Regions from separate parts of the Homo sapiens genome. Here region 1 is linked to region 2. The links come from fine-mapping of genetic effects on gene expression. A gene starts in region 2. The other region holds a variant in brackets. All regions are shown on one strand. Distances are from middle to middle.

Region 1 (5,377 bases), 30 kb before region 2:
TTTTGAGATGGAGTTTCACTCTTGTTGCCCAGGCTAGAGTGCAATGGTGCGATCTTGGCTCACTGCAACCTCCGCCTCCCGGGTTCAAGCGATTCTCCTGCCTTAGCCTCTCGAGTAGCTGGGATTACAGGCATGTGCCACCACGCCCGGCTAATTTTGTATTTTTAGTAGAGATGAGAGTTTCTCCATGTTGGTCAGGCTGGTCTCGAACTCCCAACCTCAGGTAATCCACCCACCTTGGCCTCCCAAAGTGCTGAGATTATAGGTGTGAGCCACCGCGCCCGCCCGGGAGAGGTGTTTTAATTAGATCAGTTTATTGTCATTGATAGAGTAATAAAAAAGAAGCCTGAAATTATTTATTTTACATTATGTAAAATGAGGGGGGAGGAGGAGGGAAGGAAGAGGGGGAGGATGAGAAGGCGGAGAAGGATGAGGAGGGAGAGGAGGAGGGGGAGTCACTGATAAGGTAAAAGAATAATAGATTCACTGATAAGGTAAAGGAATAGTACAAACTCTGGAAAGAGCTTTGAAGATCAATTTCCCTAACTTGTCAAACTTACATTACTATAATGTACACATTAAGCAAGGTAAGGATGGGGCTGCGTTTTGAACATTGTAGCTGTTCAATAATTATGATGGAGTGATGGATATTGTGGTGGAGTTGCATCATGTTGTTATTAAACCACTGTGCCAGTTTTAGAACAAACTCCTCCCTCCTCATCCTTCCCAAGCAGTGCCAGGAACCCAGTGTCAGGGCTTGAGAGGGAACTGTCCAGTGGGGCTGAGGTCAGAAATGCCAACTGGAAAAGACACGGAGAAGGGAGCCGTGTTCTTTTCTGAAGCATTACAGAGAAAAGTGCCTTTGAGGGTCGGGTCAAGTTTGATTGTTAGTCAAATCCAGCACCTTCTTTTAGTAAATTATGTGCTGGCAACAAACATGAATGCTATCTCACAATTCTCACAACAGAAGCATTTATTATTGTATAGTAAGGTTACAGAGGTGTAATATCAAAACAGAAACCCTGCGGGCGGGCGGAGCTCTCTGCATTACTCCAGTTGCTGCTCCTCAATCAATTTCACCAAAAATTGGGATTACAGAACACTTTGAAAGTGCAGACATCGGCACTCGCCCATGCTCTTTCTTGCAGACAAGTTCACTGGGTTCTCCTACATTACTGTGCATTAGAATTCACATCATGTTCAAAGTACAAAATCACATATTTTTTACTTTAAGGGCCAAAATGTAATCCCAACATTTTGGGAGGCCAAGGTGGGAGGATTGCTTGAGGCCAGGAGTTCAAGACTAGCCTGGGCAACATTGCAAGATCCTTTCTCTACAAAACGTTTAAAAATCAGTGGGGCATGGTGGCAAGCGCCTATAGTCCCAGCTACTTGGGAGGCTGAGGTGGGAAGATTGCAGAGCCTGGGAGGCTGAGACTGCAGTGAGCTATGACCACACCACTGCATTCCAGCCTGGGCGACAGAGTGAGACCCCGTCTCTTTAAAAAAAAAAAAAAAAAAAAAGCAAAATAGGGATTTCCAATAGTACCTTTGACTACACAACAATTTTTGAGATAACTTTAAAACAACTCTTACTTAGAATGTGATACATTATAAGTAATATATACATATATGTTTTTTTATCAGGTCAACTAGACGATCAATATATAATTAGATTTATGAAAGAAAAGCTAAAATCAATGCCTTGCAGGAATCAAGGTTATATTTTGGATGGATTCCCAAAGACCTATGATCAAGCAAAAGACCTGTTCAATCGTAAGTTTGAGTGTTCTATTTTGAGTATTTATATTCAGATAAGTTGCAACTTTATTGTTCAGAGAAGTAGTCACTCAATTAAAGTAAACAGAAAACTAGAGAGACTATTTATTTTTGAGCTTTGGCTCACCTTTCTTTACGTAGCTTTTTTTTTTCTTTTTTTTTCCCCCTGGATGGTGGCTCAAGGTGCATAGCCTTTTACAAATTTTTTAAAATTTTATTTTATTGTATTGTGGCACAAATACTTAACACGAGATCTGCCCTCGGAACAAGCTTTTAAGTGTGCGATACATTATCGTTGGCTATAGGCACTGTGATGTTCAGCACACCTCTAGAGCTTATGCATCTTGCCTGATTAAAACTTTACGCCTGTTGATTAGTAACTTTTGTTTTTTCCCCTCCCCAGCCCCTGGCAACCACCATCCCACTCTTTCATTCTTTGAATTTGACTACTCAAGTTCCCCATGTAAGTGGAATCATGTAGCATTTGTCTTTCTGTCACTGATTTCACTTAGCATAATGTCCTCAAGGTTCATCCTTGTTGTTGCATATAGCAGAATTTCCTTTAAAAAAAAAATAGACCATCCGTCACCCAGGCTGGAGCACAGTGATATATACAATCATAGTTTACTGCAGCCTTGACCTCCTGGGCTCAAGTGGTTTTCCTGCCTCAGTCTCCCGAGTAGCTGGGACTACAGGCGTGCATGACCACGCCC[G/A]ACTAATTTAAAAATGTTATGGAGGTTTCACCCTGTTGCCAGGTTGATCTCTGAACTCCTGGCTTCAGGTGATCCTACTGCCTTGGCCTCCCAAATTGTTGGGATTACAGGTGTGAGCCATGATGCCCAGCCATTTCCTTCTTTTTAAAGGCTGAATAGTATTCTGTTGGATGTATATACTACATTTTCTTTATCCATGCATCTATCAATGTACATTTAGTTTGTGAGACTATTTCTAAAATACATGTGCTATTTATGGCTAGTTTTCATTAGTGCTTGCTACTTAAGATATTTGGAATTTTTTGCTGTGATCCATAGTAATAATATATTAATAAACACAATGAGGAATATTTTGTTTTCTTAGAGGAAGATGAGGAGGAGGAAGATGATGTCAGAGGCAGAATGTTTCCCTTTGATAAATTAATTATACCTGGTAAGTTTATTTCCCTAAGATCACATTTAAAAGAATGTTCTCTGGGCTGGGCGTGGTGGCTCACGCCTGTAATCTCAGAACTTTGGGAGGCCAAGGCGGGTGGATCACCTGAGGTCAGGAGTTCAAGACCAGCCTGGCCAACATGGCGAAACCCCATCTCTACTAGAAATACAAAAATTAGCTGGGTGTCGTAGCGTGTGCCTGTAGTCCTAGCTACTCGGGAGGCTAAGGCAGGAGAATCACTTGAACCCAGAAGACAGAGATTGCAGTGAGCCGAGATCCTGCCACTGCACTCCAGCCTGGGCGACAGAGACTCTGTTTCAAAAGAAAAGAAGAATGCTGTCTGATATCTCTCTCTTTTCTCTTTGTTTTCCCCGGTAACTGGGACTACAGGTGCCTGCCACCATGCCCAGCTAATTTTTTTTTTTTTTTTGAGACTGAGTCTTGCCCTGTTGCCCAGGCTGGAGTGCAGTGGCGCGATCTCAGCTCACTGCAAGCTCTGCCTCCCGGGTTCACGCCATTCTCCTGCCTCAGTCTCCCCAGCAGCTGGGACTACAGGCGCCTACCACCATGACTGGCTAATTTTTTTGTATTTTTAGTAGAGACGGGGTTTCACCATGTTAGCCAGGATGGTCTCGATCTCCCGACCCACCCGCCTTGGCCTCCCAAAGTGCTGGGATTACAAGTGTGAGCCACCTTGCCCAGGCTCTTTTTTTTTTTTTTTAACTACTTCTTAAGGAGCAGGGCTACACCATAGGCAGTGTGCCTAGAGTAGCCCAATATCCCTTTTGTGCCAAAAGAATCTTTTTGAGTTTAATAAAGTAGGATTTTTTTTTTTAGGAAAAATATTAAAAGACATTCTCAAGCATAAACTTGCAAACTAGAGAATGCACCAACGGATAAACATGAGGAATATTAAATTGCTGAAATGAATAGAAATCCCTGTGGGAACGTTGTCTTCCACTGCTCTCTCCTGTAACAAAGCAAAAGGTAGCAAATCTGCTGATGGCTTGACTTCGTGAGTCATGTAGCCTCCTTCCCTGCCCTGGTTTTGGTGCTAACCGTGCCCTCATCTCTTCCAAAAGACATTCAGCTTCTGACTTGAGATTGCACAGGTCAAAAGCTTTTCAGTTCACTCTTAACTCCACAGTGGTTTTATTCTATCACATATTTACACAGGGATTTCACAAAGTACTCTTGAAAGCAAAGCATAAGCAATTTATCGTACACAACAGGATTTACTTAGTACTGAGCAGGCATTTCTTGTGACCTTCCTGTAAACGTTAAAAAGTGTTGTTGTTTTTAGTCAGTTTGCTTGAGGTAGATATTCATAGGGAATCATTTTGGGTCATATGATCGCTAGAAGAAAAGCTATTTTCAGCAACTTAGGACAAGGCTGTAACTGAAAAGGGCCTGCCTGCTCACTGGTATCAAGTCCCCGAGGAAGGCAGCTTGTGGCTGTTTTCTTCTCTTGGTCCAGCACAGTTTGCAGAGAAGCTTCTGGAAGGACTGAGACCACCAGATAGCAGTCATCCTTGGGGATGGATATTTATTGTTTGCCTGTGGGCTAAGTTGATTGGCCAGACACAGTGCCTGTAATGCCAGCACTTTGGAAGGTCAAGGTGGGAGGATCTCTTGAGCTCAGGAGTTAGAGACCAGCCTGGGCAACATAGTGAGACCTCATATCTACTAAAAAAAAAAAAAAAAAAAAATCAAAAAAATTAGCTGGGGGTGGTGGCATGCACCTGTAGTCCCAGCTACTTGGAAGGCTGAGGTAGGAGAATCACTTGAGTGTGGGAAGTCAAGGCTGCAGGTGCCCTGATTACACCACTGCACTCCAGCCTGGGCAACAGAGCAAGAACCGGTCTCAAAAAAATTAATTAAAAAAATAAAATAAAAAGTAAAGTTTGTTCATCTACTTTATTGTTGATTATTAAATTCTAGGTAGGTGTGTCCAGTGCATTTTGTTTATCACTTCTAGGCAATATTCACTCATTGCAAACTCTGTGCTAAATCATAACACCCATAACATCCAGGCAGCTGGATACATTTCAGTTCAACTGGCAATTGGTCGTGCACAATTTGTCATGTGCCAGGCACTCATTGAACCTTTCCACAATCCTGCAAGGCAGGAATTACACCCATGTTTACCCAATCCAGAAGCTAAAGCCTAGAGATTTATGCAAGTCCACTCACTAGTAAATGGTAGGGGGATTAAATTAAAACTCAGGTCTTCTCACTCCACTGCCTCCAAAACAATTAATGAAACCTGCCTGTGAGATAAGGAAATGGAAGCACAGAGGTCAAGTGACCAAGGACTCTTAAACGTAGGCCACTGGACTTTCCATTCTTTGTTGGACACAGTGCAAACACGTCTAAGACGTAATCTATTTGGAACGTTAATCTGTTGTTAGCAAACTTTTCAGAAATTGTCTTTATTTTCTATTTCTCT
Region 2 (5,377 bases):
ATGGGGTTTCAACATGTTTGCCAGGCTGATCTCCAACTCCTGACCTCAAGTGATCTTCCAACCTCAGCCTCCCAAAGTGTTGGGATTACAGGCGTGAGCCACTGCGCCCGGCCTCATTTTATTTTTAAAAATTGTTCTCTTTACCTGAGATGCCCTTCTACTCCTTCTGTCCACTTACCAAACCCTAACATATCAGGACGTGTCTGAAGTGACCTCTTACATGAAGTCTACCTTGACTCCATCCTCAATCCTCAATATTGTTCCTTTTAAATGCCTTAGGCAAGTAGCGTGATATCTAGCACATTCTAGGTACTAAATATTCATCAGCTGTGCTATCTAGCTGCCTCATTCTATGGAAGGCTGAAACAAAAATAGTTTGAAGCAATTATAGACCAAAAGCATGGATGTTTAGCGTCCCTCTCTTCACTGCCTTCTGAGATGCCTGGCAGAGGACAACATAAGCTGAAAAAGTCCCCATTCTTTTATTCATAAAGTACATCGTTAGTGCATTTTTTTTTTTTTTTTTTGAACAATGTCTTGCTCTGTTGCCAAGCTAGAGTGCAATGGCATGATCAGGGCTCACTGCAGTCTCAACTTCCTTGCCTCAGGTGATCCTCCCAACCTCAGCCTCCCAAGTAGCTGGGACTACAGGTGTGTGCCACCAAGGCCAGCTAATTTTTTTGATTTTTTTTTTTAGTAGAGACAACGACTTGCCACGTTGCCCAGGGTGGCCTAGAACTCCCGAGCTCAAGGAATCCTCTGCCTCCCAAAGTGCTGGGATTACAGGTGTGAGTGAGCCACTGTGCCAGGCCCCAGGGCATATCTTTACAAGCTGCTTTGAAGTCCATAGCCTTAATACATTATTGAATTATCTGGATCTCAGATTTTCAGTCTTTTAGGGACAACTATGCTACTGGGTCTCCAGCCAAAGCCACCTTGATGACAAGAGGAAAAGAGACTAAATGGAAGAAATGACAATCAAATATAAGTCTGTTTGCAGATCAGCACTATTTAATGGAAATGAAGGCCACATATATAACTTAAAATTTTCTAGTGGTCACATTTAAAAAAACAGGTAAAATTAATTTTAATAGTATATTTTCTTTTTTTTTTTTTTGAGACAGGATCTCGTTCTGTCAACGCAGGCTGGAGTGCAGTAGTGAGATGACGACTCACGGCAGCCTCCACCTCCCACTCCAGGGATCCTCCTACCTCAGTCTCCGGAGTAACTGGGACCACAGGCAGGAACTACCATGCCCAGCTAATTTTTTTTTCTTTTTTCTTTTTTTTTTTTTTTTTTTAACTTTTTGTATAGACGGGGGTTTCCCTATATTGCCCAGGCTGGTCTCTAACTCCTGCCCAAGCGATCCTCCCACCTCAGCCTCCTAAAGTGCTGGATCACAGGTGTGAGACACCGTGCCCGGCTTACATTTTCTTTACTGCAATATATCCAAAATATTTCAACGTGCAATCAATATAAAAAGTGATCAGTGAGGTATTTCACATTCGTCGAACTGACACCCGTGCGTATTTTGCACTTCCAGTGCCTCCTAAACGAACTAGCCTCATTTCAAGTGCTCAGTGGCCCTAAGTGGCCAAGGGGCTACACTAATGGACAGGGCAGGTCTAGGTCCTGTGTTTTTCCCATTCGGAGTCACCAGTCCTACTAGACATTCTGTGAAAAAAGGGAAAGCCTTTGTGAAACTTCCTGAGGACTCACAAATGCACATTATTACATTTAGAGTTTAGAACTTTGGTTAAGGCAGCGTCCTGTATTTGATTCTTTCCCTCTTCCTCTCCGCTAACCCCCTATGTGACACCGTAGAACTTATAATTCGTTCTAATTCGCAGATGGAGGGCATATGAGAGAGGAGGCTCTGCCTCAAACACTTTCTCAAACTTTTGCCGAGGGGTGGCGAGAAGGTAGACTTCCAGGTCCCACCCGATATAGATTAAGGGCTGGAAACACAGTCAAGGGGAAATTATGACCAAGACAACCTTTGCTAAAATGCCAGCGGTGACTGCCATTGATGTTCCTATAAAAGGTCAGCTCTGTCAGGAAGTTCCAGTGCATCATTTGTTCAAAAGTAAAATCAGCCCGTGTTCCAGAATTCGCGGACTGTCGTCAGTCCTAACCTACACATTTATTCGTTCAACAAATATTTCAGCGCCTGGGTCAGGCATCAGGAATACACTGGTGGTTAAAACAGACGGAAAGCTCCATCTGGTGGGACGCAGTCTGGGAGGGAAAGGGAGTCCTGGGGACATGTTTTCGTCGGCTCTAGGCTAAGCACCTCTCGCCGTAGCACACGGGGTCGGCACCGCTGCCCGGCGAAGTACTTGTTACTTTGCAGTCCAGTACGAAGCGGCGGAGTAACCGGTTCCAACCCAAGGCAGCGACTCATGCGAGTCGTTCTAAGCGCCGCGCTGGGGGGTACATACGGTGCACGCGTGGGTGCCTCACCCCCTGGCAGCGCCTCCAGGGACGCTGCTCCGGGAAAGAGCAGCCGCCGCGACCTCAGGCGGCGGGAAAGGTGGGACCTCACAATGCGCCGGAAGCGGTGCCTCGTGGCTTGGGATCTCTCCGGGTTCTTCCTTGCGCCGTCCACGCCGCACTGCCCACGAGGGCGTCCCCGCCCGAGGGACAACTCACCGCCCGGGGCCTCCCTGAGCGTTCCCTTCCACCATCTGACACCCACTGCTAAGTGTGAGAGGACCCAGGGGGTAATTGCCGGGCCGCAGGCGGCCTTAGGAACTCCGCTTCCCGTGAGGCTTCGCGGCGGACGGCGCTGGTGCGCAGGCGCACGCACGGCGTGCGTGGTGGCGTCAGCAGTTCTAGAACGTTGCTGTGGTAGCGCTCGGGCGCCATGTTAGGACGAAGGGGAAGGAGGAGAAGCGCTTAAAGCGGCGGGAGCGGTGCGGGAGAGGGGTTGGACCCAGGGCTGAGGCAGGCCCCCCCCTCCCTCCCGCCTCAGTGGATCATGCCCAGGGCGGCAGCGGCGGCGGTTGCGGGGGGGAAGTGACTGGGCGGTGCCGGCGCCGGAGACGATGCCGTTGTAAGTAATTTGTATTCTGTTTTCTTTCGCTCGCCGGCTGGGCCTTGGGGGGCGTCCGGGAAGGGGAAGAGGTAGGCGGAGAGGGTGGCACGCGAGCCCGACCCTCCCCGCTGGTAGGAGGCAGGCAGGACTGGGGACCTTCCTGTTTCCTCGCTCGCTCGCCGCCGCACTTCCCCCCGTGTGCTGGGTTCCCGCGTCCCCCGACCCTTCCTGGCTGGGTCAGCTGCCGTCGGGCCGGGGGCCTTCCCCTTCCGGAATTGCTGGCGGAACCTCTAACTCGCCCGGCCACTCCAGCTTCTCCGCCCCGTCCACAAAGAAAATCAAAACAACCCGAAAACAAAACATTGCCTGGTGGTGGGGAACCACGACCCTGCTGCACGCGGGATCAGCACTTGGGGTTCGGGCTCGCTCTCGGCGCCCCTCGGGCCCATTCGATGTTGCTTTTCTGTTCCTGGTCTGTCTCAGTTTGCTCACTCTCTTCCTCCCATTTCCAGATGCCTGTCTTGTGCGCCGGAGTTAGCCCCTTTCCACTGACCTTGTCTGAATGTAGGAGCACGAGTTAAAAGCCCAGCTTTGAGCGTTGAGTCCGCCTGCCTCCACCTCCGCCTCCCTAGCATTCACAGGCGGTCGGAGAAGGGGGCACTTCACAGGGTGCCCTCCTCCAAAACGACTTATGTATTGCTTTCCCTGTTTTGTTTTGATGGGGTAACCAGGTTTCATTCTGTTTCCTTCTTTCTCTATCTCTGGTGATACTTTTTTTTTCCTGGTTGTAAGGCTTGAAGCTAGTCTCTTTATGCTTTCTAATGCCACTGCGCCTTTTTCTTTTCTTGGTGGGTTTTTAAAAAGTTTTTTTCTCCCCTCCCCCTTTCTGATAATGAGATATAATTTGGCAGCTCATTGCCAGTAGATTACGGATTTTTTTTTTCCTGCAAATATACAGCATTGTAGAGGCCTAAATAGTGAGACTGCATTTCTTCCATTTTTGAATATTGAAGCGTAAGAGTGCCTCTTTGAGACCAGGGACCGAGTTTTCTTCATCTTAGTAGCCTCAAAACGCAACATGTAATTGACACTCAAAGTTTTGGTTAAATTCAGGATAAAGATTTTTGTGGTTTCTAGACATCGAATGTAGTAACTCAGGTCTATTTTTTTTTTGTAAGTAAGGATAATTTCTTTAGCACATAATCACCGATTGTAGTTTTACAATTATATATGTGTGTGAATGTGTTTCTTTACAGGTGAGACTCTAACTTTGGCACAGACCTTAATGACTTCTATCGCAATTTATGTATTTTAAAAGGATTTTCCATGGCTCCCACCCACCCCCTTAGGTTATTAAGAAGTCTATCACATTACTTCTGTGATGAAAACGTTTGTTAGACTTAACTAACTATACAGGTCTAAAATCTTGGAATCTGCATGGTTTCTGTTTATTGATTTTTCCCTTTCATAGAATAAGAGACCCTAGGAGAACTGAGTCTAAGCAAGATTGTTGTGGTGTTTCTCAGTTCAATAGGAGATAAATGTTTGCAGTGATGTCGTGATGACTGCGTTATTAAGTTAACATTTTGCTGTCTTTGAAAAGGGACTTCTTTTTCTGATAATCATACCAGCATTAAAAATGATAGATGTAAACCTTAAAAGGCTTCAATGAAGAAATAACATTAAGTAATTTGTGTCTTATTTCTAGGAATTAAAAGTACTTTTATACCTACTTTCCCCCAACATTCTTTGAAGAGGGAAGGTATACATTTCTGTGAAAGACCTTAGGTATTTCAAATTCTTCGCGAGTTAGTTCAAGTGTGTAAAATGGAAGACGGGGCCAGGCGCGGTGGTTCACGCCTGTAATCCCAGCACTTTGGGAGGCCCAGGCAGGTAAATCGCTTGAGGCCAGGAGTTTGAGATCAGCCTGGGCAACATGGCGAAACTTCATCTCAACAAAAAACACAAGTTAGCTGGGCGTGGTGGCTCATGCCTGTAATCCCAGCTACTTGGGAGGTTGAGGTGGGAGGACTGCTTGAGCCCAGGAGGCTGAGGCTGCAGTGAGCCTTGATCATGCCACTGCGTTCCAGCCTGGGTGACAGAGCGAGACTCAAAAAGTAAGTATACGATAATTACTGTAGTAAACAATAGAGAGACCAAAGAATGCCTAGTTAAAGAAAAATAGGGCTTCTTCCTCATTAAGTTGCTTTGTTTTTCATGTACTGCTGTCACACTGTCATAAATGTTGTTTTTTTGATGTGTTGGATTGTGATTTCCCGGCTATATTGTGTTTGGCTTTCATTTTTGGTATACCTGTCCTAATGTTAAATTTGGATGGG

Evidence for each region.
Region 1: its variant is fine-mapped to the expression of PAPOLA in whole blood (INTERVAL, PIP above 0.99).

The regions. Positions count from the first base shown.
Region 1 is chr14:96,469,831-96,475,207 of GRCh38, forward strand. It overlaps AK7 (adenylate kinase 7), which reads left to right. Exons shown (of 18, transcript NM_152327.5): 13 at 1,648-1,776; 14 at 2,857-2,925. Among named protein-coding and RNA genes, the nearest start is that of PAPOLA-DT, 30 kb to the right of the region's middle. RefSeq lists a silencer at 4,208-4,408. The variant G/A (reference allele first, on the strand shown) is at 2,493.
Region 2 is chr14:96,499,545-96,504,921 of GRCh38, forward strand. PAPOLA (poly(A) polymerase alpha) reads left to right here and starts at 2,838. Exons shown (of 22, transcript NM_032632.5): 1 at 2,838-3,056. The coding sequence starts at 3,049. PAPOLA-DT (PAPOLA divergent transcript) reads right to left here and starts at 2,782. Exons shown (of 1, transcript NR_122121.1): 1 at 2,104-2,782. RefSeq lists enhancers at 1,543-2,139, 2,140-2,734, 2,652-2,911, 2,735-3,330, 4,486-4,987 and 1 more and silencers at 2,250-2,593, 3,032-3,151.